2 separate regions of the Homo sapiens genome follow, and region 1 is linked to region 2. Evidence: fine-mapped QTL for protein levels in blood plasma. Region 2 holds a variant in brackets. A gene starts in the other region. All regions are shown on their forward strands.

Region 1 (15,699 bases), not on the chromosome of region 2:
TGATTTATTAAAGCAGGAACTTAAAATATCTTGGACAAACGCAGATAAAATTTACCTGAAAATCAGTAAGTGACTAACGTGTGAATCCTTGTTATTACCTTTCTCATTAGAAACCAATGATATTGACTGTGTTCGGAAAAGCCAGTCATGTCTTCATCCTTTTCTGATTAAAATATATTGTTTTATTATTATTATTATTTGAGACAGGGTCTTGCTGTGTCACTCAGGCTGGAGTTCAGTGGCACAATCATGGCTTACTGTAACCTCAGCCTCCTGGGTTCAAACTATCCTCCTGCTTCAGTCTCCCAAGTGGCTGGGACTATAGGTGTGCACCACCATGCCTGGTTAATTTTTAAATTTTTTTGTAGAAATGAGGGACCGGGTGGGTGGGTCTGGCTATGTTGCCTGGGCTGGTCTCAAACTTCTGGGCTCAAGTGATCCTCCCGCCTCAGCCTCTCAAAATGTTGGGATTACAGGTGGGAGCTGCGATGTTTGGCCTATTGTTTAAAAAAACTGTTAGATTAGCCACTAGAGGGAGCTCATGCTTTTCTTGTTAACGGGAAAATTACATGATTTGACATGCCCACAAACTAAACAGAAATCTCATAAAGAATTATAGTCCTTAAAGCTAATTTAATTTTTTATTGCATTTTCTTTCTTCTTTCTTTCTTTCTTTTTTTAGACGGAGTCTCACTCTGTTGCCACGCTGGAATGCAGTGGCACGATCTCGGCTCACTGCAACCTCCGACTCTCTGGTTCAAGCGATTCTCCTGCCTCAGCCTCCTGAATAGCTAGGATTACAGGCATGCGCCACCACGCCCAGCTAATTTTTCTAGTTTTAGTAGAGACGGGGTTTCACCATGTTGGCCAGGATGGTCTCGATCTCCTGACCTCGTGATCCGTCCGCCTTGGCCTCCCCAAGTGCTGAGATTACAGGCGTGAGCCACCGCACCCGGCCTTTTATTGTACTTTCTTCCTCCTCTCTCTCTTTTACAGCTTTGTTATGAGTTTTCCCCACAAGCCCATGTATTTCTTTGCTCCTGTGGGCAGCGAAAACTTTTGGCCTTGCCTCTGGACAAATCTATCAGGGCTGATAGATTTTGTCATTGGTACAGGCCCTCGCTTCTCATCCACCTCCACTGCCTCTCTTTTTGCTGATCCAAGGTCCCCAACATTCTCCCTAGCTGGCAGAGATCATCCCTGTTTCCCCATTATTCAGAGAAATTTAGCTTAGTTTTGCTTTAACTTCCATACCATCAAAAGTCCTAGGCCCATCTCTCCCTAATCAAAGGCTCCATACAAAAGAGACATCTGCCCTGAGGTAAATTCTGAGGCTTTCAGTATTGCAGAAGTGATTGCTGGCATTTCTTTTTCTAAGCAACACATTTTTTCCCTCTCTGTTATATAGTTTATTTTGACATGTATCCTCTTACCTAATAGATTGTGATTTTTAGTTCTTCATTCCAGAGGAAATGCAGGTTGTCTACTCCAATGGTTAAAGAAAGCTGGTGGTAGATGGCTGTACCTACTTGGTCCTATACTCTACCAGAAGGCAGAGGCCAAGATTTAGTTTTCTGGAGATGGAGATACCAGCAAGTCCTTCCTTCTTTTTTTCTTTGAGCAAAACAAATTCTTTATTAAAACAGTTGACTTGAAACAGTATATTATATCTAAAGGAAGAGTTTTTTTTTAATCTGTATAGCAGACTTTTAAAGAAAGCAACTAGTTATGTATAACTTGACACCTTTCCCTCTAATCTTTTGTCAGTTTGCCCCAGTTCATAATCTTATTAATGGACTTAGATTAGACTGTTCCTTTGTGATTTATTCATCTCCTTAAAATGTAGGGTCCAAAGTTGAAAGTTCCCTCCTGAGAACTTTAAACCAATGTGGGTATCAAAATGCCTCAAGTGACTTCTTGGCTTGTGATGACTTGGGAGCTAATTCCACTCCCTATTAAGAAGTGTTGCCTGTTTTTCTTTCTCATTTAATTTCATCTCCTGTCTATATAGGCCAAAAACGAGACAGTACCTAAAGTATCTGTGATTGTAGTCTCTCTTTATCTTCCTTTCCAATAAGAAGGCAACTTTCCAGTTTCCCCGTAAGGATAAAACAACTACAGATAGCTTCCTCCCAGTTAACTGACCTAGAGATCGCTAGCATTTATTTATTTATTTATTTATTTAATTTATTTTGAGACAGAGTCTCACTCTGTTGCCCAGGCTGGAGAGCAGTGGCACGATCTCAGCTCACTGCAAACTCCGCCTCCTGGGTTCAAACGATTCTTGTGCCTCAGCCTCTCAAGTAGTGGAGATTACTGGCGTGTGCCACCACGCCCAGCTAATTTTTGTATTTTGAGTAGAGACAGGGTTTCACTATGTTGGCCAGGCTGGTCTCAAACTCCTGACCCCAAGTGATCCAGCCACCTTGGCTGGGATTACAGGCGTGAGCCATGGTACCTGGCCACTAGCATTTAAATTCATAAGAATAGTTTACAGATTAAATACGTCTGAGTCTTTTATCCATTGCTCTAATGTATAAAATTTGTTCAGGCACAGACTGCTTTCTAGTATAGCAAAATAATTGAAGATTTTAATCATAGAACAATCCTTACTAGTTAAAGTCATTTTATGACAGGGCATGGAGGTGGATATCAGTGTGGCCAGGAGGATTCTGGGATGGAGTCATGGGAAAAGTGGGACTTGAATCATGTGTAGGTGGGAGTCAGATGAGTTGGAAAGTAGGACAGGGCGAATAAAAGAATGAGCAATGCGAGGGCAGAAATGAGCATGAGATGAACATGACAAGAGTAGTTGAAATTGATTTGGAAAAGGCCTAAAATGAAAATTTAGGGTGAAGTATATGTCAATCAACTAAAAAATACATATTAGGAGCTTCCTAAGTGCCAGGCACTGCTCTAGGCATGCAGTAGTGGGGAAGACAAAGTTTCCATGGTCGAGAAACCTAAATTTGTACATGTGGTAGGGTAGGAGGGAAGATATAAGTACACACATTATTTTAAAAGGTAATTGTAGATTGTGATGGTTTGATCATTATATCTAATCATGATAAAAGAAAATGAAACAGACTCTAGCCACCGGATTTTTAAAATTGTGTACCCTTCTAGTTAAAATTAGAACAGCCATCCCATCTATGTATGTTTTGTTCTCTTGTTAGTTTATATTAGCATTATTAATATGATCTTCCACAGGAATTTCTTAGCAGGAGTCTTTTAGAGCCACTTGCCCATTTTGTGAAGGTTGGCTTAGTGAGCACTCTGTCTTGTAATCCTTAAATCCCCTTAACTACATGCACATAAATGGAAACTCATGTTGCAATCTGCAGAAGGTGAATGACTGAGTGAGGGCACATGCCAGCCCCTCAGTTGTGGCGATGTCACCTTTTCCTCAGGAATTTCTTAGCAGGAGTCTTTTAGAGCCACTTGCCCATTTTGTGAAGGTTGGCTTAGTGAGCACTCTGTCTTGTAATCCTTAAATCCCCTTAACTACATGCACATAAATGGAAACTCATGTTGCAATCTGCAGAAGGTGAATGACTGAGTGAGGGCACATGCCAGCCCCTCAGTTGTGGCGATGTCACCTTTTCCTCAGGAAATTAGCACATGACAAATGATTTACAGTCAATTTTCAGTTTTTTCTTGTTTTTTAGACAAAAATGTAAGTTCTAAATATTTTCATCAACTCCATAAGGTACACACACTGGAACCACTACCACTACCAGAGAGAGAGTCTGGGGAAAGAGTGGTTATTTTACTAAGGGTCATAAGAGAAGGGGACTCTGTGAAGTGACATTTAAACTGAGACTTAAGTGATGAGGCAAGAACCGCCATGCAAAGAAGTGTGTGTAGGCCCAGGTGTTTCAGGGAAGCAGAGCCACTATGAGTATTATGAGGATAAAAATTTACTATAGGATTCAGATCTCACAGATGAGGAAGGATCTCAGGGAGTGAACATCTAGAAGGGAGAGTCAGGGGATCAGAGGAAGAATCAGTGACTGGTCCATCAGAAGCACTGGGACAGTTGGACAAATAGAGCTTGTGTGAAAAATCCAAGAAGTTAAGCCCGTTCAGCGCCAAATTGGGGCTGCTAGGGTCTATGGGAGCTGTTGCTTCTGTGTAACTACCGCCTCTGTGGGTCCACTGCCAAATATCTGGGTGGGGGGCCTGGGACCATCACTGATCATGAGGCCAGCAGTCCTGAGCATAAGCTGAACATGGAGGAAAAGAGCAAGGACAAGCTGGGATCCACTGGCTACCAGTGTGTCTGTCAATATGTCTAATCAAGATTAAGGGTCACTCCTTCACTTTTGATTTCCAAATCTCACATGAGTTCTTCTTTGGCTAACTATAACCTGGAACCACACAGGGAAGGAGATTCTGGGAAATGTAGTTGTAAGACTAACCAAGTTGATATAGTACAACCCAGAACCACAGGGAACAAAAACCCCAGAAGGCAATGAATTCAGTGTGCTCAAGAGACATACAGAAAAAAGGTGATGCTGAGGCTCAACAAAGGAGGGGAGGGTAGAGGGAGCATGATTAGATAAGCAGGCAGATCCCAGCTTATGTTAGGCCAGCTCATGGTATGTTTTGACTTAATGCTAAGCTGCAGGATTTTAAGCAAGGTGGCAGCATTCTGTAAGTTATTTTTTAAAAAGATTATTCTAGTTGTCATGGAAGTTAGGGAAGCAAGAGAAATGTTGAGAAGAAGAGCCAACAGGGAAAACAGCAGGCTACTGAGGTAGCTCAGGAAAGAGACAATGATGGCCTGGACTAGGATTATAAAATACAGATATTGAGAACTGGTCAGGAAGCCTTTTAGTCTCATTTCTCCAACATGTTTTTTCAGTGCTGGAAACATTTCTCTCTCTATGAGATGTAGGATCCATCTGCTGCAAGGAAGATGCAGCAGAGGTAAGTGGTTAGGGAGGATCTGGGACAAACATTGAGGACTTTCTCTGCACCAAGACCTATGCTGAACCTGCTCCTCACAACAATCTGGAATGAGGAAAATGATGCACTGGGAGGTTAAATATTATACTTTAACCAGGGTCACACAGTTAATAAGTAGTGGGCCCCTGATTCTAACCAGGATATCTCAGAATCCAGGATCTTAGCTCCTTCCAGAGTCCTGTTGCCTCTCAGGTGAAGGCCCTTGTGAGAATTCATGTCTACCATTAGCAGCTGTTATCTGCCCGAATATTACACCTGTCTGGCCTCTAAAGTGTACATCAAGTGTACAGGCTGATGCTCTTCGTTCCACTCTCAACCTTCTTAGAGACTCCACGCTGCGTAATGCCTCCAGCCCAAGTTTCCTGGACCCTTAAATAATTCATTCAGTGTTTAGGTCTCCATCATAACTACTTGAGGCTTTACAATATTTAAACATATACAATTTTAGGGATAGAAAAGAAGACGTGTTGGCTTCCTGGGGACACACCTCATTGGAATAGTGTTACTCTTGAGGATTAGGAAATACATTGAATTCTACATAATGCTTTTTTTTTTTTTTTTTTGACAGAGTCTCACTCTGTCACCCAGGCTGGAGTGCAGTGGCATGATCTTGCCTCACTGCAACCTCCACCTCCCGAGTTCAAGTGATTCTCCTGCCTCAGCCTCCCAAGTAACTGGGACTATAGGCGCATGCCACCATGCCCAGCTAATTTTTGTAATTTTAATAGAGATGGGCTCTCACCATATTGGCCAGGCTGGTCTCAAATCCCTGACCTCAAGTGATCCGCCCACTTCGGCCTCCCAAAGTGCTGGGATTATAGGCGTGAGCCACTGCGCCCAGCCCCACATAACTCTTTTAAATCAGTGTTGTTGTAAGGCAGTGTTGTCATATTTTCCATAGGTTTTTTTTCCTGTTCCCGATCGACCCTTTAAAGAGCTTTCATGTGTTATCTCAACTAGTGTTACACTTTATTTGAGAGAAAGCTAAAAAGTAAATAAGGACATATAAGATTTACTATTAAACATTCAACAGTTGAAGGGTACATTCAAGAGAAAAAAAATCAAGATCTGTTTTCTGATTAATGGTCTATTTATTGATACCATTCTATTTTAACAAAGAAAATATTTCAAATTACAAGGTATACAAGTCAATACTGTTTTGAAGTGAAAAATTATTTGCTTTGAGAGTGTATGCATGTATGTATATATATGATAAATGATTATAACGTGTGTGTCAGTGACAATATGTAGTCTTTGGTTGTTAGTTATATACTGTCTACCTGTGAGATGCAAGGTAAGTGGGTCACAGACTCTCAAATTTATGAAACACTTAGATTTTTCAGGGAAGTTACATGAAGGAACTAGGGAGTTTCATGATTAGATAAGACGTTCGGGTGGGATCTCCACCGGACAGCACTCTAAATCATCAGCAGTGTGAGCAGTGATTCAATTTGGGAAAGTGAGTATAGGTTTAAATTCTGGCCACAGACAACCTCTCCTACACAATTCACTGAACCTCCCCTGGAAGGAGGTTTCCACATCCTGCAGAGGCTAACTGGGCACCAATCATGCTTCCACTAACCGACTTGGCTGCTTCCTCTAGCGCTTAGTACTTCACCGTTCCCTTTCTTCATGGGAGATGGTGTGGTAATTGATAATCACAATACAAACTCTGAAACAAGTAAACGGACAATAAAACTCATATTTGCCTAAAATGAGTTTCGATAAGGATCTCGGTGGCTATCTTGTTAGATCTTAGAAAGCTGAGGCTTATTGAGAAAGCCCTTTTCCTTCGGGAAAAGGAATTTTTGTATGGTTGGGAAAAGGTTGGTCACTGGCTGATCTATAAAGTCCTTTTCATTGTAAGATTATATGATTTTCGGTAAACTGTATATTTTTTAAAAACAGTCCAGAATATCCGCAAGTGTTTTACCACGTGCTTCTTATTGTTGGAGAAGCTGAGCAAACATCCTGTCATAAAAAGACAAGGATGTTGCATCATCCCTGGTCCCTGTAGTGAGTGTCCTGAAGATAATAAGTAAGAGGTTACCAGAGGCTAGCCAACATGGAGTAGCCAGGAAAGAGCCAGCACCTGCTCTGAGACAATGGTCTGGTTGCCATCCTGCCCATAACAACATCAATTAAAAAATTATTAAAACCTAGTTCCACAGTATTATTAGGCACTGTGGAAGAAACAGGGAAATATACTGTGGCTCTTGCCCTCAAGGAGCTGACAATCTGGTTGGAGAGATAGGATAAACACCCAAGAATTAGTTAACCATTGAGTGTTCACCCATGTGGTACTGAACCAAGTGAAACAGGAGTTTTAAGATAATTTGTGTGTCCAAAAAGGTTTATTTAAGAGGCAGGACTTGAACTAAGCTGGACTGAGTGAGGATGAATTGGGAGAAGAAAGCACTTCTGTGGGGTGTTGGGGACAAGATGAGAAAGGAGTTGACTCAGATAAATCAGAGCATATGACAGGTGCACTGGAGAGAAGAAAGGCACTGCATTGTGGTAGGATGGAGAAGAGCTGACTTGAATGAAGCAAAGGGGAACAAAAAGAAATAAAGTGGTCAGCCTGAGCGGGCAAGATGGAATCACATGGCTTCCAAAGCCAGAAAGGAGGCTCTGAAAGCCACACACTGGTGATCTCCAGTGGTGATACCCAATAACAATCAGCATGAATCTCTCAGACACATTGTGTGTGAGGCCTGTAGGCTGATTCAAATACAGAGGTTGATGGCCACAGCAGCTTGGTGAGGTCCAGCTCAATTTCAAACTGCTTGGCTCACCAGCATGCTAACAGGCTTAGGACTTGCTGACATGTGCCTCAGATACTCTCTGGAGGCTGCAGTACGTGGAAGCCTAGGGCTGCTCTTCCAGGCAGCTGTTGTGAGTGGGATGTGGTTGGGTGAACATCTGTGTAGACATGGGTATTGCTAAAATCATGGCCTTAAGCATGATGAAATTCAACTGGTGGGTGGTAGAAGAACAAAGACAATCATAGCCTTTAACAATTCTTAACGTTTGGATTCTTAAAATCAACTTTCTAACTTTAGTTACAATTTCAGAGTAATGTTTTAAATTTTCTAGTCAAATTAATAAGCCTTTGTATTATATGCCATCCTCCTTTGGAATGATAGCGGTATAATTAAAATAGAACATTTTTAACACAGAATACTTATTGGTGAAGTGGTCTCTTATGTAGTCTTCTTTTGACGAGAACGTTGAGATTTTCGAACTTTCAGAACTTTCTTTTTTTGATGTTTTTTCCCATTCTTTTGCTTTTTCTTTTGGCTGACCTGTGAGAAGAAGGGGAAAAAGGGCAATGTTTCTGAATCTTACCATTTTTACTTCCTTTTATTTGGACTCTCCTGATCATTGTCTCATACCCACATAGTCTCAAAACCACATTAAAGTCACTTCACTCTCAGAGGGGCTCCCTTAGATTCTCTCTACTTTGCTCACTTTGAGGAGGAGGCAACAGCCTTCAAACTGGCTGTCTTTTGTCTATTCTTCTGGCTTATTACATTCTCCTGGCAACCTTGCTTACCACTCACCTGCCCCAGCTACAACCCTCTGAAGGTGGCACTATTATCATCCACGTTTTACATAGGAGGAGGCTGAGTTCTGGAGAGGGTGACTTTCCCAAATCTAGACAGCTAGTATGTGGCAGAACCTCCAGTCTGTGAGACTCCAGAACCCAATCTCCCACCCACATATTCTGTGGCTCTCTTCAAATCCAACTCCTTAGTATGCCATGCAGGATTCCTCCCGCTTTGTCCTGATCTACTTTTCTGCCTCAGTCCCTTCACTCTCTTCACACAAACTCCAGCCACATTAATGGAGGCTCCCTGAACACAGCAGGTTCTCTCATGATTCTACTCTTCTGCTCATGCTGTCCTTACCTTCCTGGCAAATTATTTATCCTTCAAGACCCAAATCAAATATCACCTGACATGAGAAATCTTCCTTAACACTTTCTCCTGCCCCATTCCCCCAGCAAAGTTAAGTACTCCCTCCTCTATGTCGTCAAGATTCTTGTGCATACTTTTATATTTCTCACATTGTACCATAATTATTAGCATATGCACTACAACAGGAAGGGACTATACCTTATTATCTTTGTATCCTGTGTCTACCATTCAATTCATTACATATTTATTGTATTAAATAAGGACAAGCTCTGTACCCCCAAGGAACACACATTCTTCCAGTGGGAGACAGAGAGGGGATACTATATGTAGGAACCTAATTTTGTCCTAGGAACAAAATAGAAGCACCATAATATGAATGAAAAATGTATTCTTAAAAGTTATGTATTCTTATAGTGTTAATGAAAAAGCAGATTCTTTGTCTTCTAAAGTTAATTTCTAAAAGAAAGAAAATTTTGATCTTCCTTTTCACCAACCTGTTTCTCCCACTTTTTAATCAGTTCCTTCACATCTGCTGAATCTGGGTTTAGACATGTTTGAACTCCATTCTTCAGTGTAGCACTGCCAAAGAAATAGCAATGAGATAGTTTTTTCTCATTAATAATTTAAATGCTTCTTCTCAGAAATAATGAAAATCAGTATGAATTGTGCTGAATTTTCTAATGAAACTACTTAAAATTATTTCCTAGGACAAGATGAGTCACTGGTTGAATTTTTTTTTTTTTCTTTTTTTGAGACAGAATTTCGCTCTGTTGCCAGGCTGGAGTACAGTGGTGCGATCTCAGCTTGCTGCAACTTCCAACTCCTGGATTCAAGCGATTCTCCTGCCTCAGCCTCCCGAATAGCTGGGACTACAGGCATGCGCCACCACGCCCAGCTAATTTTTGTATTTTTAGTAGAGACAGGGTTTTACCACATTGGCCAGGATGGTCTCAATCTCTTGACCTCATGATCTGCCCACCTCAGCCTCCCAAAGTGCTGGGATTACAGGTGTGAGCCACTGCACCCGGCCCTGGTTAAATTTTAAAAATTACTTACAGTAGACTGTCTGGAAATAATTTAAATGTTCCTTTAATTTTTCTGTATAGTCTGAGAATAAGAGTAGTCAAGGATGACTTATAAAGACAAAATATGCACACATCCTTCAACCTAGCAATCCTAATCTCTAGAAAGGAAAGAATTACAGACACAATACTGCCACAGTAAGTTTTATTTCAGCAGTAAAAATTTGGAAATAATCTATATTTCCAACAATAATCCTGGTCATATAAATTATGGTTTATCCATATGATGAAATACAGTTTGGCCATTAAAAATGACATTAAGTAAAAATGACATTATTAGAGATTTACTGACACGAGAAAATGTTCATGATATAGTGTTAATGAAAAAGCAGATTACAAAACAGTGTATAGTATATGATTTAATTTTTGTGCTTATATACGTGTATGTAAAAACATATCTATGTTATGTGCACACGAAGCAAGTAAGGAAGATTTAGAAAACTGTATACTAAGGGGTTAACAGTATTTGTCACTCAAGGGTAGAATTATGCGTGATTTTTATTTTCTTCTATTGTGTTACCTGCATTAAACATTTTGTACAATAAACATGTGTCATTCTTGGGGCCTAATCTACCAGAAATTCCTTGCATTTTTAAGGAGAAGAAAAGAAAGGAGCTGCCCAAATTTATGGAGGGGGTAACCATCTGATTTTTAAGTGTTTGTATGGGCAAGCACTCCAAGGGTAAAACTCATGCTAAATTTAATGTTCTTGCCAATATGGTGCATGCATGTTAGCTGGGTTGTTACTTACATGATTTCAATTTTCTCGCAGGAAGGGCTTGGGGCAAATTGTTTAAGGTCTTTCAAGGATTGTAGGTGGATAGTCCCTTGGTTGGTGCTGATGCAGGAACAGCGACCCTTTCTCACTACTGGGGTTCCTGAGGGAAAGAAAAAGATAGAACACATCAGTATAGGCCAATGTTTCAGTTTAGGTGATCTATCAAAATGATACACTTGACTGAGTCATGATTATTGCTATCATTTACCGAGTGCCTAAAAATAATCACCACAAACCTTTGAAGGAGGTATCATCTCTATTTTATACATAAGGAAACTAAGGTTCAGAAAGATTAAGAACAAAGTCATACAGCTTTTAGGGAGCAGGGGCAGGGTTTTAGCCCAGATCTCTCTGAGTCCAAAGGCGTTGCTCTTAACTACCACACCGTAAGTCCGTGGGAGAAAAAGAGACTTTCACAATATTTAATAAATGCCTATCACAAGACAAACAGATAACTAATTCATGTATGCTATGCTGATCACAGTTTCTTAAGCAACTCCTAAACCATCTATTATTTATTATCTGACCTTAAGGAATGGAACTGGTGTTGGTGTTGAATAGAAAGCACTCCTTTGTAACCAATCACCACTTTCATCCTCATCCTCTCTCCTCCCCACTGCCTTGCTTTTCAATAGTGTTTTAAATTTTTGAAAACCCCTTAAAATACATTATCTTAATTCTTAAATTCATATATTTACTTGGTACTTATTGTACCATATGCCATACATTGTGTAGCAGTCAGAAAAGGTATAACTACAAAGTTCTATTTTACAGATGATGAGGAAACTGAGGTCTAGAAAGATTAAGTAATTTGTCCAAGGTAACAAAGATAGTTAGTAAATAGATTAGGGACAAATTCTCTGATTATTGGTTGGATCCTTAATTGGTTAGCCACAGATATACTTAGCAAAAAACAGTATCAGGGAGAAGAAAATAATTTAGGAGATAGAGTTCTCATTATTACCCAGTTCAATGAACATTTATTGAACACTTACTAGGAATTCATACACCTAGACTACAAAGACTTGTGTTTGACTTGGCAGATCGAAGTTATGAACTTTGGATAACTGGTCATGTCACTGAGAAGCTTTTATGACTGACCAAATATTACTCTTCAATGCAGGCAGAACATTCACCTTTATCTGGCTAATCAAGATTCTTTTACAGTGAATCACTTCTCTTACTTTACAACCTAACTCAGAACCCCTTACCTTGCACTCCAATCAGAACCAGCAAGATGATGCCCAAGAGGAAAAGAACACCACTTTTCTTCATAGTGATAGAATGGAGTTCCAAGTCACTCCTGTATTGGATTTTGAGCCTGAGAAATTCTTTAGAGAACACATTTTGGGGATCATATTTATTTAGGATATTCATTTCTCTCCTAAACTCTGATTGGCTAGTATCTTTAGCTGAGCTAACTAAATTGACCACAAACTTGATTGTGCTGGGGGAAACCCTAGTCTCAGATCCAAGGGAATTTCTGCATGTTTTTATTTCCATTTCACATAAATGGGTGGTTTATAGTAAGGGATGTGAAACTAGCAACACTGATAGCCTTTGGCACATTCACAGTTGCTCACCTGTGTGAAGAATAGGTTATATAATGAATATACTAATGTTATACAACAAAGGTTGGAGATGTGGTTTCCAGATGGGAAATATTAAAGTCCAGATAAATAATATACTTTTCAAATTCCCTTACTATTTATGGCATATTCTTCTGTATAATAGATGGCTACATTGATATTTTCTTATATTGCCCACTTAACAACTTAAAGCACCTTAATTTCCTCTGGGACCAGGTCATTTTCTACTAGTGGTAAGCTCATTCTGTATCATTCCTGCTACAGTATTATTTTTTAAACTAATAAATTGGTTAGAATAAGGGGTCAGTTGCATGTAAGAGACCCAAATTAACAGTGGCTAAGAAATGCAATAAAAATGAAGATAAATAGCTGGGACCTAATTAAAGAGCTTTTGCACAGCAAAAGGAACAGTCAGCAGAGTAAACAGACAACCCACAGAGTGGGAGAAAATCTTCACAATCTATATACCTGACAAAGGACTAATATCCAGAATCTAGAATGAATTCAAACAAATCATTAAGTAAAAAACAAACAATCCCATTAAAAAGTGGGCTAAGGACATCAATATACAATTCTCAAAAGAAGATACACGAATAGCCAACAAACATATGAAAAAATGCTCATCACTAATGATCAGGGAAATGCAAATCAAAACCACGGTGTGATACCACCTTACACCTGCAAGAATGGCCATAATCAAAAAATCAAAAAACAGCAGATGTTGGTGTGGACTTGGTGATCAGGGAACACTTCTACACTGCTGGTGGGAATGTAAACTAGCACAGCCGCTATGGAAAACAGTGTGGAGATTCCTTAAAGAACTAAAAAGCAGAATTACCATTTTATCCAGCAATCCCACTACTGGGTATCTACCCAGAGGAAAAGAAGTCATTATTTGAAAAATGTACTTGCACATGCATGTTTATAGCAGCACAATTCACAATTGCAAAATCATGGAACCAACCCAAATGCCCATCAATCAATGAGTGAATAAAGAAACTGTGGTTTATATATACACAATCGAATACTACTCAGTCACAAAAAGGAATGAATTAACGGCATTAGCAGTGACCTGGATGAGATTGGAGACTATTATTCTAAGTGAAGTAACTCAGGAATGGAAAACCAATCATCATCTGTTCTCACTGGTATGTGGGAGCTAAGCTATGAGGACACAAAGGCATAAGAATGATACAATGGAGTTTGGGGACTTGTGGAGAAGAGTGGGAGCGGGGTGAGGGATAAAAGACTACAAATAGGGTGCAGTGTATACTGCTTGGGTGATGGGTGAACCGAAATCTCACAAATCACCACTAAAGAACTTATTCGTGTAACCAAATACCACCTGTACCCCAATAACTTATGGAAAAATAAAAAAAAAAAAAACAACAACAGAAAACAGTGGCTAAGATAGAAGCTTATTTCTCCCTGAGAGATGTAGGTGGATTAGCACTTGGATAGTGGCTCTTTCCCATGAGGTCTTCCAGGCTTCTCCTTTCTTGTGTTGTCACCATCTCTAGATTGCTGCCCTCATGCACATGGCCAAAGGTGGCTTGCCACCATGTCCAATTTCCAGGTATAGGATGATGAGAAGGCAGAAAAAGGGCATGTCCCTCCTTTTTAGACATCCTAGAAGTTGCACCCATCATTTTCTATCACCTCCCATGGAGGCAGGCCTTAATCACATGGCTACACCTAGTTGTAGGGGAAGTTAAGAAACGTCATCTTTATTTTGGTTGACTAGCTAAAGATTGGAGATTTCCTTATTGTAAAACAATGTTTCTCAACGTTTTTTTTCATTATGGACTCAGCACTGCATGCGTGTGTGCGCGCATGTGCACCCACACACACACACACACCCCCCCACATTTCACCTTGCTCTGAGAAAAAATAAAATGAACTGAAAACTAAATTTAATTTCTTCCTGAAGAGAGAAATCAAATGCTAAGAAATAAGATTTTGTTGGGTAGGGTTGAACCTTGGTAGGCCACTAGTCATTGCAATATCTAAAATTTTTTAGCTCTCCAAGAACCAATATTTTCCCCCTTGGGAGCAATTTACCTCTCTTCCCATTGACAATGCATGCTGTAGAATTGGAGGAAAATGGATATTAGCATTTCATGTCACATGGTGCACATTTTTTGACTGACTTCTATACAGATTATTAATACTTAAATGGAATTACAGAATTCTTTTTGAATAAAACATGTGGTGACCATTGATACAGCTTATCCATTTGCTCATGCTTAATTTTGGTACTGACTGTGGCAATGCATAGAGTGCAAATAGGTTCACGTTCCTGCTTTACCACTTAATGACTGTGTGCAAAATACTTAATTTTTGTGAGCTTCATCTCCCTCATTTAAGAAAATTATTAGACCTCACAGGGTGTTAAAATTAATGCCAAGGACGGATTGTCAACTGCAAAGCCTCACAGGGCTAGTGGCTGTTCTTTCCAGCAAAGAAAGGAGGATGGAAATTTCTTAGGATAAGAACTAAGGCCCAGCACTGTTGGTGCTACCCACCTTTCTAGCCTCTTCTTACACAGCTCTCTGCTCCCATCACTTTGTCTTCTCTCAGTTTTCTTTTCTTTTCTCCTTCTCCTTCCCCTCCCCTCTTCTTTTCTTTTCTTTTCTTTCTTTTTGAGACCGTTTTTTTTTTTTGCCCAGGCTAGAGTGCAATGGTGCAATCTCAGCTCACGGCAACTTTCGTCTCCCAGGCTCAAGCGATTCTCCTGCCTCAGCCTCCCAAGTAGCTGGGATTACAGGCATCCACCACCATGCCAGGCTAATTTCTGTATTTTTAGTAGAGACCGGGTTTCACCACGTTGCCCAGGCCGGTCTCGAACTCCTGACCTCAAGTGATCTGCCCGCCCTCCCAAAGTGCTGCAATTGCAGGCGTGAGCCACTGCACCCGGCCCTTCTCTCAGTTTTCAAAGGGGACAATGCTCCTTCCCATGGCACTGTTTTTGCTCATGCCATTCTTCTGCCTGGAGCGACTGTGCATGCTCCTCATTCCTGCCCTCCTGCATAGTAGTTACTCACCATAGTTACCCAGGCCAGCATCATTTCCCTGGGAAGACTTTCCTGAACCCCAGAGGGGCTCTCACCGCACACTTGCAGAGGCCTTGCTGAGCCCGTGTCCGCAGCAACGCTACGTTTCCCTGCAACCCTATGGTTAACATTTCCTTCCACCACTAGGCAAGGAAGGCCTGCGACGCTCCCCGTCTGAGCATGGTGCTAAACACAGTGCCTAGCACCCAGTAAGCGCACACGCATGAGGGAAGGAGCTGGGAGCTGGCTCGGCAGGTCTGGAAGTTGGATAGGGTCTGTAAAGGGCTGCCTGGCTCCAGGGGCCTC
Region 2 (15,673 bases):
CTGCTGTTCCTCCCATCGCATGCTCTTTTCTGGGAATGACTCAATTCAGAGGTACTAATTCTGGTTTTTCTTGTTTAGGACCAGTGTGACCAACGCCCAGCCACTGCAACCAACCATGTGACAGAGGGGATTCCTAGACTGGATTCCCAGCCTCAAGAGACCTCACCAGAGCTGCCCAGGAGGCGTGTCAGACACCAGGGTATTTATTAGCCAGGACTCAGCCAAGGCCGCAGGTCTACTGCTGGCTCCGGCCTGTTTACCACTTCCCATCCACTGCTCTAATGTGGGGATTACCTGCATCTCAAATTTCCAAACACACTAGGGTCTCATAGGGGACTCCTCTGCAGGTAGTTGTGGTCCCACATTAGACTGAGCTCTCTCAAGTGTGTGATTTTTAGGGTAATGGCTTTGCGGACATCCATGAGATACATGTAGTAGTAAGTGCTTGTAATAAGTTTCTGGTTTCCTATCTGTGCACTTAGTGGATTATTTGTAGATAATTTGCAGACCTTATGGTAGCTACCCTGGGCCCCCATTTCAAGTTGAAATACACTTAGGGTACTCAAACCTATTATTATTATTTAATTTTTTTGTAGAGACAGAGTCTTGCTCTGTCACCCAGGCTGGAGTACAGTGGCACAATCATAGCTTACCACAGCCTCAAACTCCTGGGCTCAAGTGATCCTCTCTCCTCAGCCTCCCAAGTAGCTGGAACTACAGGCACACTCTACTACACCCAACTAATTTTTTTGTTTTTGTAGAGATAGGGTCTTGCTATGTTGCCCAGGGTGATTTCGAACTCTTGGCCTCAAGTAGTCCTCCTGCCTTGGACTCCCAAAGCATTGGGGTTACATGCGTAGGCCACTGTGACCGACCTCAAACTTATTTATTTAATTTATTTTTTTTAGACAGGGTCTCTTTGTCATCCAGGCTGGAGTGCAGTGGCGTGATCACTGCAGTCTCAACCTCTTGAGCTCAAGTGATTCTCCCACTCTTAGCCTCCTGAGTAGCTGGGACTATAGGTAGGCTAGGTGCCCACCAACACACCCAGCTAATTTTTAATTTTTTTTTGTAGAGTTGGGGTTTCGCCACATTGTCCAGGCTGATCTTGAACTCCTGGGCTCAAGTGTTCCTCCCAGCTCGGCCTCCCAAAGTGTTGGGATTACAGGTGTGAGCCATCACACCCAGCCTCAAACTTATTATTATTACTTAAGACCATCATGTTTAGGCAAGTAAACTGTTTTTGAAACCTCACCACTACAAAGCCAATTAGAAATTATTTTTTGGCTGGGCATGGTGACTCACACCTGTAATCCCAGCACTTTGGGAGGCTGAGGTGGGCGGATCACAAGGTTGGGAGTTCAAGACCAGCCTGGCTGACATCATGAAACCCCGTCTCTACTAAAAATACAAAAATTAGCCGGGCGTGGTGGCGGGCGCCAGTAGTCCCAGCTACTTGGGAGGCTGAGGCAGGAGAATCACTTGAATCCAGGAGGCAGAGGCTGCAGTGAGCCAAAATCATGCCATTGCACTCCAGTCTGGGCGACAGAGCAAGACTCCATCTCAAAAAAAAAATTATTTTTCAAGGTTTGCTTGCACACTATTGTTGAATAGTTAGGAGGCTGTCTTTGAGGACTCAGATAATATGTGCAGAATTGATAAAATATCCCCATCTCTGCCCTGGAGATGTGGGTTCCAGCAGCCTTTTGGGGTGAGCAGTTGTCTTTTTTTTTTTTGAGACACAGTCTTGCTCTGTCTTGTCCAGGCTGGAGTGCAGTGGCATGATCTTGGCTCACTGCAGTCTTCACCTCCTGGGTTTAAGTGATTCTCCTGGTCTCAGCCTCCTGAGTAGCTGAGACTATAGCTGTGTGCCACCTCACCTGGCTAATTTTGTATTTTTTTTTTAGTAGAGATGGAATTTCACCATGTTGGCCAGGCTGGTCTCTAACTCTTGACCTCAGGTGATCCCCGCACCTCGGCCTCCCAAAGTGCTGGGTTTACAGGCATGAGCCACCACGCCTGGCTGAGCAGTTGTCTTCTATCTGGAATCTTTTTGTTCCTGCCCTAAACCTGGCACTATAGCCAGAGCAGGCTTTTTCCTAAAGCTGTTACCATTTTCTCTTCTCAGGAGACCTGTCTTCTGGTTACCTGGATGATACTAAGCAGGAAACAGCTAATGGGCCCACCTCCTGTCTGCCTCCCAGCCGACCCATTAACAATATGACAGCTACCTATAACCAGCTATCGAGATCAACATCAGGCCCCAGACCTGGGTGCCAGCCCAGCTCTCCTTGTGTGCCGAAGCTCAGCAACTCAGACAGCCAGGACATCCAGGGGCGGAATCGAGACAGCCAGAATGGGGCCATAGCCCCTGGGCACGTTTCAGTGATTCGCCCTCCTCAAAATCTCTACCCAGAAAACATTGTGCCCTCTTTCTCCCCTGGGCCTTCAGGGAGATACGGAGCTAGGTAAGAATCAGTAGCCCAGGAATGGGGCTTGGGAGTAGCTGAAGCGAACATGGGCAAAGGCCTGGTTACCCTTGCCAGGCCTGGGGTAAGACTGAGGTACTTGCATGGTAAGGGGAGGAGTATGGATTTTCCCTGTATTGTCACCTGACTCCAAAAAAATTATTTTGTGGCCTATGGGTTTTTTGGGGTTTGTCTGCTAGCATAGGACTGCTTCCTGTTCCCTCTGAGTTTGTTGACCTTTGCTCAGGGACACTTCAGGAGCTAGTTTCTAATTGTTTTCTTTCAGTGGTAGGAGTGAAGGTGGCAGGAATTCCCGGGTCACCCCTGCAGCTGCCAACTACCGCAGCAGAACTGCAAAGGTAAGGTGGGCTCCAGCCCATGATGCTCAGTGGGGGACTCAGACATGGTGGGGCTTGTGTGGCTCCTGAAGTTGTAGAAGTTGTTGGGACCAGGCTGGTTGTGGTTCAAAGATTGTTCCTTTGGCTTTTGAGAAGGAGGTTTCTAAGGAAGCGGGACATTTTCGGGGATCCAGGGGAGGAGTAATGCTTTTTCACTTTTTATGTAAAGCTTCGTTTGTGTTGTGTTGTTCACCAGGCAAAGCCTTCCAAGCAACAGGGAGCTGGGGATGCAGAAGAGGAAGAGGAGGAGTAATGGTGTCTCCAGAGACTTTACATCGGTTCCTGTCTTCTGTGCACAGCAGCACTTGCCGCTGTGCAGGCCCACCTCTTTGGCTCTTTGGGTGGGAGAGTTTTTCCAGATTTTAGATTTTTCTAGGTTATGGCCATTTTGTGTCTTTTGAGGTTGTGCTGTGGGGGTTTGGGTTTGAGGGAAGGGAGCAGGGTGGCGGTTGAGGAACGCTTCAGCCTTAGCTGCTACCTTTCGGCAGCAGTGAAATACAAGCTGCAGCCTCGGCTGCCAGGGCTCCCTTTTGACTTATTGTCGCCACTGCCCCTTGGTGCTGTGTGGTCCCAGTGGAAGGAGGGGAAGATTTTGGAAACCTGGTAGCCACCAGTAAGGTGATTCTCTGCCCTGTTGGGGCCTAAATTTGGGGGCTTTTGGGCAACCTCTCCGTGTACTGCGTCTGTCCACACTCGATTGGGCCCCAGGTGTGTATGAGGCGCTCTGGTAAGGTGCTCAGGCCAGTTGCAATGTCTGTCAGTAACGAGGCTTTTGATGTGTTGAGCTGGAGGTGAGTGGACCGGGGGCTGTGTTTTAAGCTGCTTCCTTGGCATTTGGCATCACTGCCTTCTGTTCCCGGGGGAGCATGGATCTTTTGTCCTCACTGCTTTCTAATGGGGAGGGCTGAGGGCTCCCTGTCCCCACAGCAGGTATGTTGGGCTCTGCCCCAGCCCCACACTTGCTCTGAAAACCAAGTGTCAGAGCCCCTTCCCCTTGTTTTTATTTTACTGTTATAATAATTATTAACTTCCTTGTAATAGAAATAAAGTTTGTACTTGGAGTTCAGCTCAGTCTTGTGGTTCCTTCTCCTGTGTGCTTTAGAGACTGCAGGGAGGGCAGGGTAGGCTGGAGTCAGCCCTGGGGTTGGAGGAGGTGAGCAGGGCTGGGCTTTCTCCGGCACTCCAGTAACCCTCGCAGCTCCACCATGAGTCCCTTCTTGGAGTACACAGACATTGAACGTGTAGTGTTTTAAATTGGACTTCTGAGAAAACTGACAGGCTTGCTGCAGCTCCGGTGATGACTGGGGCTAGAAGGGGTGCCTCTGACTGAATAGAGAAAAGCA[G/A]ATTCTTCAAAAGCCTTCATCCTGAGAGGAGTTGAGCCCTAGCAGGATTAGCTGTTACCCCTCAGTGCCTCCGTCTGCATAGGACCACTGAGCACCGTAGGTCATTTTGAGTTCCTTTGTTCTTCCAACAACCTGTTGGGGTGGGAAAGGTGGGAGGAACTGCCCTATTTCATAGATGGAACACTAGACACGGGAACCATGCGGCCAGTTCTTTGCAGAGGCAGGTCTCTGAAAAGAATTATCCTGAGAGAAAAAAGCTTCGTCTGCATGCACTCGCGCACACACACAAACGATACATAGTAGGGTTAGATCTTTTAGTGTATGTCAGTTATATCTCAGTAAAACAAAATCACCTTAGCTCAGTGAGACTTTCATGTGTTGTTGCGTGAAAGAAACTGGAGGGACTCGGACTTGCATGGCTTCTGCTGTCATTGAAATCTCCCTGGAACTTCAAAAAGTTGGGAGGAAGGATCCAGGGCAGCTCTAAGTCCTCTCCCCAGCTGGGCCAGGGAACAGTCATGTTGCCCTTAACTGTCTGTTGGAGTGTGGGGATAGACCTGCCAGAAAGTCAAACTCTCCCCACTCTGCCTTTGGTTGGATTAGACATTGAGTAAAATAGTAGGAGGTTGGTTGGTTTTACACTGTTTTTTTGAGACAAAGTCTTGCTCTGTTGCCCGGGCGGGAGTGCAGCGGTGCGATCTTGGCTCACTGCAACCTCCACCTCCCAGGTTCAAGTGATTCTTCTGCCTCAGCCTCCTGCGTAGCTGGGATTACAGGTGTGCGTCACCATGCCCAGCTAATTTTTGTATTTTTAGTAGAGACCGGGATTCACCATGTTGGTCGGCTGGTCTCAAACTGCTGACCTCGTGATCTGCCCACCTCGGCCTCCCACAGTGCTGGGATTACAGGCGTGAGCCACTGTGACCCGCCAACAATGGGGTTTTCTAAATATACAGTTATGTCATCTGCAAACAGAGACAATATGATTTCCTCTCTTCCTACTTGAATACCCTTTATTTATCTTGCCTGACTGCCCTGACCAGAACTTCCAACACTATGTTGAATAGGAGTGGTGAGAGAGGGCATCCTTGTCTTGTGCCGGTTTTCAAAGGGAATGCTTCCAGTTTTTGCCCATTCAGTATGATATTGGCTGTGGGTTTGTCATAAATAACTCTTATTATTTTGAGATGAGTTCCATCAATACCTAATCTATTGAGAGTTTTTAGCATGAAGGGGTGCTGAATTTTATCAAAGGCCTTTTCTGCATCTATTGAGATAATCATGTGTTTTTTGTCATTGGTCTATTTATATGATGGATTACATTTATTGATTTGAGTATGTTGAACCAGCTTTGCATCCCTGGGATGAAGCCGACTGGTGGATAAGCTTTTTGATGTGCTGCTGGATTCAGTTTGCCAGTATTTTTTTTTTTTTTTTTTTTTTTGAGACAGAGTCTCGCTCTGTTGCCCAGGCTGGAGTGCAGTGGCATGATCTCAGCTCACTGCAAGCTCTGCCTCCCGGGTTCATGCCATTCTCCTGCCTCAGCCTCCCGAGTAGTTGGGACTACAGGCGCACGCCCGGCTAATTTTTTTGTATTTTTAATAGAGCCAGGGTTTCACTGTGTTAGCCAGTATGGTCTCGATCTCCTGACCTTGTGATCCACCCACCTTGGCCTCCCAAAGTGCTGGGATTACAGGCGTGAGCCACCGTGCCCGGCCAGTTTACCAGTATTTTATTGAGGATTTTCACATCGATGTTCATCAGGGGTATTGGCCTGAAATGTTCTTTTTTTGTTGTGTCTCTGTCAGGTTTTGGTATTAGAATGATGCTGGCCTCATAAAATGAGTTAGGGAGGAGTCCCTCTTTTTCTATTATTTGGAATAGTTTCAGAAGGAATGGTACCAGCTCCTCTTTCTACCTTTAGTAGAATTTGACTCTGAATCCATCTGGTCTTGGGTTTTTTTCGGTTGGTAGGCTATTAATTACTGCCTCAATTTCAGAACTTGTTATTGGTCTATTCAAGGATTCGACTTCTTCCTGGTTTAGTCTTGGAAGGGTGTTATGTGTCCAGGAATTTATCAATTTCTTCTAGATTTTCTAGTTTATTTGCATAGAGATGTTTATAGTATTCTCTGATGGTAGTTTGTATTTCTGTGGGATCAGTGGTAATATCCCCTTTATCATTTTTTATTGTGTCTATTTGATTTTTCTCTCTTCTCTATTAGTCTGGCTAGTGGTGTATTTTGTTAATCTTTTCACAAAATGAGGTCCTGGATTCATTGATTTTTTGAAGGGGTTTTCCTGTCTCTATCTCCTTCAGTTTTGCCTGATCTTAGTTCTTTCTTGTCTTCTGCTAGCTTTTGAATTTGTTTGCTTTTGCTTCTCTAGTTCTTTTCGTGATGTTAGGGTGTTGATTTTAGATCTTTCCTGCTTTCTCCTGTGGGCATGTAGTGTTATAAATTTCCCTCTCAACACTGCTTTAGCTGTGTCCCAGAGATTCTAGTACGTTGTGTCTTTGTTCTCATTGGTTTCAAAGAACTTATGTATTTCTGCCTTAATTTCATTATTTACCCAGTAGTCATTCAAGAGCAGGTTGTTCAGTTTCCATGTAGTTGTGCAGTTTTTGAGTGAGTTTCTTAAACCTGAGTTCTAATTTGATTGCACTGTGGTCTGAGAGACTACTTGTTATAATTTCCATTCTTTTGCATTTGCAGAGGAGTGTTTTACTTCCAATTATGTGGTCAATTTTAGAATAAATGTGATGTGGTGCTGAGAAGAATGTATATTCTGTTGATTTGGGGTGGAGAGTTCTGTAGATGTCTATTAGGTCCACATGGTCCAGAGCTGAGTTCAAGTCCTGAATATCCTTGCTAATTTTCTGTCTCATTGATCTAACATGGACAGTGGGATGTTAAAGTCTCCCACTATTATTGTGTGGGAGTCTAAGCCTCTTTGTAGGCCTCTAAGAACTTACTTTATGAGTCTGGGTGCTCCTGTATTGGGTGCATATATATTTAGGATAGTGAGCTCTTCTTGTTGCATTGATCCCTTTACTATTATGTAATGCCCTTGTCTTTTTTGATCTTTGCTGGTTTAAAGTCTGTTGTATCAGAGACTAGGATTGCAACCCCTGCTTTTTTTTGCATTCCATTTGCTTCATAAACATTCTTCTATCTCTTTATTTTGAGCCTATGTGTGTCTTTGCACGTGAGGTGTGTCTTTGCATGTGAGATGGGTCTCCTGAATACAGCACACTGATAGGTCTTGACTCTATCCAATTTGCCAGTCTGTGTCTTTTAATTTGGGCATTTAGCCCATTTACTTTTAAGGTTAATATTGTTATGTGTGAATTTGATCCTGTCATTATGATGCTAGCTGGTTGTTTTGCCTGTTAGTTGATGCAGTTTTTTCCTAGTGTCGATGGTCTTTACAATTTGGTATGTTTTTGCAGTGGTTGGTCCTGGTTTTTCCTTTCCATATTTAGTGCCTCCTTTAGGAGATCTTGTAAGGCAGGCCTGGTGGTGACAACATCTCTCAGCATTTGCTTGTGTGTAAAGGATTTTATTTCTCCTTTGCTTATGAAGCTTAGTTTGGCTGGATATGGAATTCTGGGTTGAAAATTCTTTTCTTTAAGAATGTTGAATATTGGCCTCCACTGTCTTCTGGCTTGTAGGGTTTCTGCAGAGAGATCTGCTGTTAGTCTGATGGGCTTCCCTTTGTGGGTAACCCGCCCTTTCTGTCTGGCTGCCCTTAACATTTTTTCCTTCATTTCAACCTTGGTGAATGTGATGATTATGTGTCTTGGCGTTCCTCTTCTTGAGGAGTATCTTTGTGGTGGTCTCTGTATTTCCTGAATTTGAATGTTGGCCTGTCTTGCTAGGTTGGGGAAGTTCTCCTGGATAATATCCTGAAGAGTGTTTTCCAACTTGGTTCCATTCTCCCTGTCACTTTCAGGTACACCAATCAAATGTAGGTTTGGTCTTTTCACATAGTCCCATATTTCTTGGAGGCTTTGTTCATTCCTTTTCATTCTTTTTTCTCTAATCTTGTCTTCTCACTTTATTTCATTAAGTTGATCTTCAATCTCTGATATCCTTTCTTCCGCTTGATCGATTCAGCTGTTGATAGTTGTGTATGGTTCACGAAGTTCTCATGCTGTGTTTTTCATCTCCATCAGGTCATTTATGTTCTTCTCTAAACTGGTTATTCTAGTTAGCAATTCCTGTAACCTTCTTTCAAGGTTCTTAGCGTCTTTGCCCTGGGTTAGAACATGCTCCTTTAGCTTGGAGGGGTTTGTTATTACCCACCTTCTGAAGCCTACTTCTGTCAATTCATCAAACTCATTCTCCATCCAGTTTTGTTCTCTTGCTGGGGAGGAGCTGTGATCCTTTGGAGGAGAAGTGTTTTGGTTTTTGGAATTTTCAGCCTTTTGGCGCTGGTTTTTCCTTATCTTCGGTGATTTATCTACCTTTGGTCCTTGATGTTGGTGACCTTTGGATGGGGTTTCTGTGTGGATGTTGTTTTTGTTGATGTTGATGCTATTCCTTTCTGTTTGTTAAGTTTTTCTTCTAACAGGCCCCTCTGCTGCAGGTCTGCTGGGGTTTGCTGGAGGTCCGCTCCAGACCAGTATTACCAGCAGAGGCTGCAGAATAGCAAAGATTGCTGCCTGTTCCTTCCTCTGGAAGTTTTGTCCCAGAGGGGCACCCACGCGATGCCAGCCAGAGTTATCCTGTATAAGGTGTCTGTCGGTCCCTGCTGGGAGGTGTTTCCCAGTCAGGAGGCGTGGGGCTCAGGGACCCACTTGAGGAGGCAGTCTGTCCGTTAGCAGAGCTCAAGTGCTGTGCTGGGAGATCTGCTGCTCTCTTCAGAGCTGGCAGGCAGGGAGTTTAAGTCTGCTGAAGCTGTGCCCACAGCTGCCCCTTCCCCCAGGTGCTCTGTCCCAGGGAGATAGGAATTTTATCTATCAGCCCTTGACAGGGCTGGTGCCTTTCTTTCAGAGATGCCCTGCCCAGAGAGGAGTCTAAATAGGCAGTCTGGCTACAGCGACTTTGCCGAGCTGTGGTGGGCTCCACCCAGTTCGAACTTCCTGGCAGCTTTGTTTACACTGTGAGGGGAAAACCCACCTACTGAAGCCTCAGTAATGGCAGGCGCCTCTCCCCACACCAAGCTCGAACATCCCAGGTTGACTTCAGACTGCTGTGCTGGCAGTGAGAATTTCAAGCCAGTGGATCTTAGCTTGCTGGGCTCCATGGGGGTGGGATCTGCTGAACTAGACCACTTGGCTCCCTGGCTTCAGCCCACTTTCCTGGGGAGTGAACTGTTCTGTCTTGCTGGCATTCCAGGTGCCACTGGGGTATGAAAAAACTCCTGCAGCTAGGTCGGTGTCTGCCCATACGGCCACCCAGTTTTGTGCTTGAAACTCAGAGCCCTGGTGGCGTAGGCACTGGAGGAAATCTCTTGGTCTGCAGGTTGTGAAGACTGTGGGAAAAGCATAGTATCTGGGCCGGAGTGCACCGTTCTTCCCGGCACAGTCCCTCATGGCTTCCCTTGGCTAGGGGAGGGAGTTTGCTGACCCCTTGTGCTTCCTGGGTGAGGCCATGCCCCACCCTGCTTCAGATCACCCTCTGTAGGCTACACCCACTGTCTAACCAGTCCCATTGAGATGAGCCAGATACCTCAGTTAGAAATGCAGAAATCACCTGCCTTCTGTGTTGGTCTCGCTGGGAGCTGCAGACCAGAGCTGTTCCTATTCGGCCATCTTGCCACCCTTCCAAAGTTAGTGTTTATGAAGTACAAGAAAGGTGGAGTTGAGAGCATGAGAATAAAGCGGCTCTGGGTGAGGACTACCATGGAACAGTAGGAGGGGACAAGCAGGTCACAGAGAACTGAGATTATCCGGAGTATAGCCAACCTGGGCTCCCTGGCCAGGGAGGCAGCTGTGCAAGGACCTGAGTGTTGATCATGGACAGCAAGACTCAGCAAGTCCTCACCTCTTTCCTGTATGTGCCTTCTGCACAAGGTAGGTCTACATCCACTGCCTGCTCCTGAAGGAGGAGCTGTGTCTAAGAGGGGCCCAGACTCTGCCACGATAACAATCCGCTTGAGGAAAATGCCCACACCAGGCCCAAGCGCATAGACTAGCTGCCAGGACAAAAAGTGGGCAGGGGATGTAGGGTTAGGTTTAACTTTGATTTTGGATTCCCCTGCCTTCGTAATTTCTACATGGAATGCACAGACTGAAGAGTCAGGTTTGGGGAAGGGTAGTTTAAAAACCTCATGGAGTAAGAATCACGTCAAATGCCAAGAGACCATAATAATTAGAAACACTTTAATTCCTAGCCACTTGGCAGCACTTAAATATCAGAGCCATCCAAGCATGCCAGCCTTTGAACTTGCTCAGCAAGAGTAGATGATCACACAACTCTTAAGGTAAATCAAAATTAGATGAAGGTTATTTATTGGTGTGACTTTTTTCCTTTAGTGAGCTTCCTTTACACAGCATGGTGTAAATAGCATCAGATTGAATGAAAAGTTTGTTAAATGCAACCATAAATAATTATAATAAATATACATCAAGTAACTTTACAGCACACATTTTTTAGGGCCAAGGTTTGGATCTGTCTGGACCTCAATGTGCTCTCGGAGAAGCAGCCACGTTAGCAGCAGATACCTTACAGCTTGTCATCTACTCAAGTGATGGCCAACAGAAGCTTCTGAACTCCTCCTGGGGAGGTAGCTGACAAGTCCATTCAAGGGATGAGGACTAAAGAGAACCAAGAATTTAAAGATGTAGGGAGGAAAAACCACTTCTAATAAATCGAAAGGCTCTTTCATTATGCAGAAATGAAAATAAAAGGATCCTTATTGTCAGGAATACATCCTGGCTGTGACCCCCCACACTCAAAGGAGCTGTGGCCGCTGGGGAGGCAGCGGGCTGACCATCTTCTTTCAAAGCAGGGGAACTGCTTGCGGGCACTCACCTCCAGAGTTGACTTGCATCCAATACAACTGATGCAGCTGTCATGATTAACCCTAGGTCGATTTCATCCTTAGGTCAGGGGATCCTTTCTATAATGGTCCTTGATGCATTTCCTAAGAGTTACAGGGAGGAGATGGATGCTAACGGCTCTATCTCTAGAATTCACAATCTTTCCAGCAGGCCAGGGCACATCTTCTTTCTTGGACCAGCATCCACACTCCAAAACCTTCTAGACAGCACTCACTCAAAACTTCCAATATTCACAATATTATACAATAAATACAGCGATGTGATTCTGTGAGACCTGGCAAGGCCCAAAGTGACAGTGTCCAACAAGATGGCCTGTGCTGCTCATGAACAAAGTACCACTGGACAAAGACCTATTTGGGGCAAAGATGCAGTGGGTGAGCCTGGAGGCAGCTCAGCCCTGGCATACACACTTACATGGGGTGATGGGGAGTGCTGGGTGGGGCTGGCCAGAGGGGCAGAAGGACCCCCCTGGAGTCTCCATCTGGACTTGAGTGTCTGGGTCACTAAAGCAGACCCCAAATTGAGCAGAGCACCTCAGTCCACTCTTTTGAAAATGGGTGTGGCCCTTTCCCTTGTCCTACGTCACTGCAGGGAGGAAGGGCCATTTCTGAGCATTTTGTGCTCCTTTTTTGTGGGGTAGGCTTGAATCATGTGCTTTCCTCTCAACCAGAGTCTCGGAGGAGGCCCCCACCTGAGCATTGTCCCCCATCTCTGGGTGTCTTCTCACCCCCTGCGGCTGGGATGCACCCAGCTAGGCTCTGTGAACTAAGGTCGGGATGAACCCTTAAGTCTCCTGCTCCCGAGGAGGCCTCAGATGAAAACTGTCAGACCAGGGCCCAAAGAGACAGACGGCAGATAGGGAGGTATGGGAGGGGCAGGGGAACCACTGTGGGCTTTTCCTCAGAAAAACCAAGACCGGGAGCAAGTTCTAAAGCAGGAAGATGAACACATAAAGCTCCCTGTGTGTCTCACGTGTTTGGGCAATTGGCCCAGCCACCTCTATGTGGAGGGAGGCCTGCTGGGGCTGCCTCTGGAGCAACTCCAGCTCGAGGCTGGAGGGCAGGGCTGGCCACAGGCTTGTCTGTGGAGGCGCTCTGCTGAAAGCACGAGCGCTCTGTGTGGCCGAGGTCATTGTACCCCCGGCTTCCTGCTGGGTGGTTCTGTGATGGGGAACCAGCTGGGGCCTTATGGCATTAGAATCTGGTGGCCATGAGGGACAATGTCCAAGAAGATCAAATTAGACACAAACTGTCTGGGAACTAAACTATCCTACAAATAGACCACAAACAGGCAGCAAAAGAACCAACCCATCACGAAACGTACAAAGACAAAAGGTTAAGTCTTCCAGGAGGCCCTGGAATGTGGACGAAAGTTTGGAAAAGCAAAATGTTGCCAACTCCTCACGCAGGGCCCTGGAGGGACGGGCCGCAGTGGTGGCTTCCCAAGCCAGCAGAGTGGGTGCCTCAGTGACAGCCTAATTCTGGGGCTCCCTCCCATCAGCCACTGAGGGGGTCTTCACGGTAGTGAATGGCACAACGAAGTTTCTCCAGCATGATTTCCAGAGAGGAGTACTGGGGAAGCTTGATCATGAACATGCAGGTCTCCACGCGGATGTAGCGAGAGTCTGGGGAACCTACAAGAAACCGAGCCAGCATCAGAGGGTTGGGCCCACATCTGTGAGGCTCCCAGGGAAGCTGGGCTGGCCTCTGCTTCCAGGTTTGCCTCCTTGGGTAGCCCCAAGCCAATCCTGGGGCCCAGCAGGAGGGGGATGAGGGCCTGGGAACCTGCGAGATGTTCTTGGAGGGAAAAGGGGAGAGAGCTGCTGGACAGCGCATGTGCCAAACTGCTGATGGGTTTGTCTGCCCAGCAAATTGTTTCTTTTTTTTTTTTTTTAACCATTTTTCTGCATTTAAAAGTTAGAAGATTTGAAGCATTCTGGATTTTCAGCTTCTTTTAAGATATGAGAAAGTATCTAACAGCAGGCCTGTATGGCTGGTTCCTGCCGGGCCCTAATCCTCAATGATGTCTGAGTTTTGGCACGTGGGGCTCCTGTTCATTGTTCTCCCTTCACATGGGGCCTGGCAGCCCCAGTTCCAAACAGAGAAAGGCTAGTGTGTCCCTACTTGGGACATGGCCAGGGGAGGGCGGTACCTGCTGTGCCATCTGGGGGGGCGATCTTCATGGGGTACGGGGGCACATGGGCAGTGTCGGGACCCCCATCTTTGCAGGGGCAGGTGAACGGGATGCGCTCCTGGTTGCAGGCAAACTTGATGAACTTGCACAGCTCCTCCTGGGTGAACATCTCCAGGGCCCCCCAGAAGAACTCGATGTGCTGGTCCGTCTCCATCAGCCCCACTTGGTACATGGTGTGGGCCTGGGGAGGAGAGGTCCAGGTGTCAGGAGCCCTGGAGCCCCACCTACCCAGTGCCTCCCCAGCCCTGGGGTCTGCAGGCCAGGCCCAATCCTGGGGCAGGGTGCAACGTGTGGGCTGTGAGCACAGGGAGATGACAATGATGACAATGATACAGGTCTGTGGCAAGGACAGAGCTGAGACAGGCCACTGCCGATGCCTGCTGCTGGAGTTGAGGGTGACAGGGAGGCACGCCTGGGGCTCACCACCTCCCCGCCCAGCCTGGCCCTGGGATGTCTACCTTGAGGAACTCGAGGTTGATGTAGGGGAGGCCGCAGGTGCGCAGCTCCATCTCCAGTGGGCTGAGCATGGTCAGCAGCTGCAGGGGGATGATGGAGCCCAGGCCGGCCCGCACGGCCGTCACGCACTCCACATTCTGCAGCTCCCGCAGCCGCAGGCTCCGGATGGCTGCCGCGTAGATGTCCTTGTTCTCCCACCTGCCCGGGTGAGGAGCACAGGTGAGGGAGAACACCGCCGAAGAGGCTGGGTCTGGGGGCCACACCCACTCAGCTGGAGGTCCCGGATCCTCTCTTGGGAGAGGCCTGGGGCCCAGCCGCCCTGGTCATCCCAGTCCTTTCCTGCCTCTGGTGCCGCCGCCTCAGAGCTGCTGTTTTCTTAGTAAACCCCTTCTGCTGAGGACCCTCTTTCTTGGCACCCACCATCCTGCCTCATCTCCCTCTCCTGGTGAAATCCACCTGTCACCTGACCTAGGTCCTCGTGTCATTGCCCAGGAACAGATGCTGCTGTCATACCCTGGCTGGCTGGCCGGGCCAGCCCCTGCCAGCCCCTGACACGCGCACACACTCACGCCACAAGGATGTGCCGGCCCCGGCTGCACAGCTCCACCTCCTCGCCCGTCATGGTCAGGTAGGTGAACCTGCAGCAGGGCTTGTTGGGGCTGTCAGGGCTCTCCGTGGCCAGGTGCTGGGAGGCGATCTCAGCGCACAGGGCCTCCAGCTCGGTCTCATCATTGATCTGGAGGGTGGAGGCAGAGCGAGGCTCATTATGAGGCCATGGGAGGTGGAACCCTGATCCCCAGGTGGCTGGGTAAACCCCAAGCGCAGCTGGTGGGGTCTACCCTCGGCCGTGTAGATGAGCATGTGACACAGCTTTCGCCAATCAGAACCTGCCATCAGTTCAGGGCCGGGCGTGTGACCCAGGCCAGGCTAAAGAGACCCACATTCCAGGCCTCTTCCCACGTCTGTTTGGAGGCAGCGATCCTCTCTCACTGGCATGGACCGACTATGATGGGAAACCCTTTACCACTGGAGGCCACCTCTGCCCGTGCGCTGGGAGAGACTGCTTGAGGCTAATTATGCTTGCTTTTTTTTTTTTTTGAGACGGAGTTTTGCTCTTGTTGCCCAGGCTGGAGTGCAATGGCGCAATCTTGGCTCGCTGCAACCCCTCGCCTCCTGGGTGCAAGCAATTATCCTGCCTCAGCCTCCCGAGTAGCTGGGATTACAGGCGCCCACCACCATGCCTGGTCAATTTTTGTATTTTTAGTAGAGACTGGGTTTCACTATGTTGGCCAGGCTGGTCTCTAACTCCTGACCTCAGGTGATCTACCTGCCTCAGCCTTCCAAAGCGCTGGGATTACAGGTGTGAGCCACTGCACCCAGACCGCTTTTTCTTTTTTTTTTTTTTGAGACAGATTCTCGCTCTGTCAGCTGGAGTGCAGTGGCGCAATCTCAGCTCACTGCAACCTCTGCCTCCTGGGTTCAAGCAATTCTCTGCCTCAGGCTCCCGAGTAGCTGGGATTACAGGCACCCGCCACCATGCCTGGCTAATTTTTGTATTTTTAGTAGAGACGGGGTTTCACCACCTTGGCCAGGCTGGTCTTGAACTCCTGACCTCGTGATCTACCCGCCTCAGCCTCCCAAAGTGCTGGGATTACAGCTGAGCCACCGCGCCTGTCCTCTTTCTTTTTTTTTTTTTAAAGCAATCTGGATCAGAGGCCTGAGACCAATACCAGATGATACTGTTTGAACACCTGGATTTGGCCCTGCCTGAAGTCAAACCCATCATGCTTTTTGTTTTAAGAGCAA

Which allele goes with the higher level. Alleles are on the strand shown, and positions count from the first base shown. The strength of an association depends on the size of the effect and on how common the allele is.
With allele G in place of A in region 2, the plasma level of the protein whose gene starts at base 12,086 in region 1 is lower (moderate association).

What was found. A credible set is the group of variants that fine-mapping cannot tell apart. PIP is the chance, under the fine-mapping model, that this variant and not a neighbour inherited with it causes the effect. Protein levels are from antibody-based Olink assays in UK Biobank. Linkage for the fine-mapping came from a reference panel and not from the study's own genotypes, which makes the PIPs less certain.
Region 1: it holds the start of CXCL9, and the variant in region 2 is the best candidate, but not a certain one, in a credible set for the plasma level of the CXCL9 protein (UK Biobank, PIP 0.54).

The regions. Positions count from the first base shown.
Region 1 is chr4:75,995,424-76,011,122 of GRCh38, forward strand. It overlaps CXCL9 (C-X-C motif chemokine ligand 9), which reads right to left and starts at 12,086. Exons shown (of 4, transcript NM_002416.3): 1 at 11,963-12,086; 2 at 10,725-10,851; 3 at 9,386-9,470; 4 at 5,852-8,276. The coding sequence starts at 12,026. The coding sequence ends at 8,175. SDAD1-AS1 (SDAD1 antisense RNA 1) reads left to right here. Exons shown (of 3, transcript NR_125906.1): 2 at 683-1,321; 3 at 9,650-10,519. RefSeq lists an enhancer at 15,697-15,699.
Region 2 is chr12:112,149,673-112,165,345 of GRCh38, forward strand. TRAFD1 (TRAF-type zinc finger domain containing 1) reads left to right here. Exons shown (of 12, transcript NM_006700.3): 9 at 79-199; 10 at 2,129-2,468; 11 at 2,755-2,827; 12 at 3,063-3,932. The coding sequence ends at 3,119. HECTD4 (HECT domain E3 ubiquitin protein ligase 4) reads right to left here. Exons shown (of 76, transcript NM_001388303.1): 73 at 14,437-14,603; 74 at 13,870-14,065; 75 at 13,370-13,592; 76 at 10,523-12,851. The coding sequence ends at 12,715. It overlaps MIR6861 (microRNA 6861), which reads right to left and starts at 13,649; the gene lies at 13,586-13,649. The variant G/A (reference allele first, on the strand shown) is at 4,210.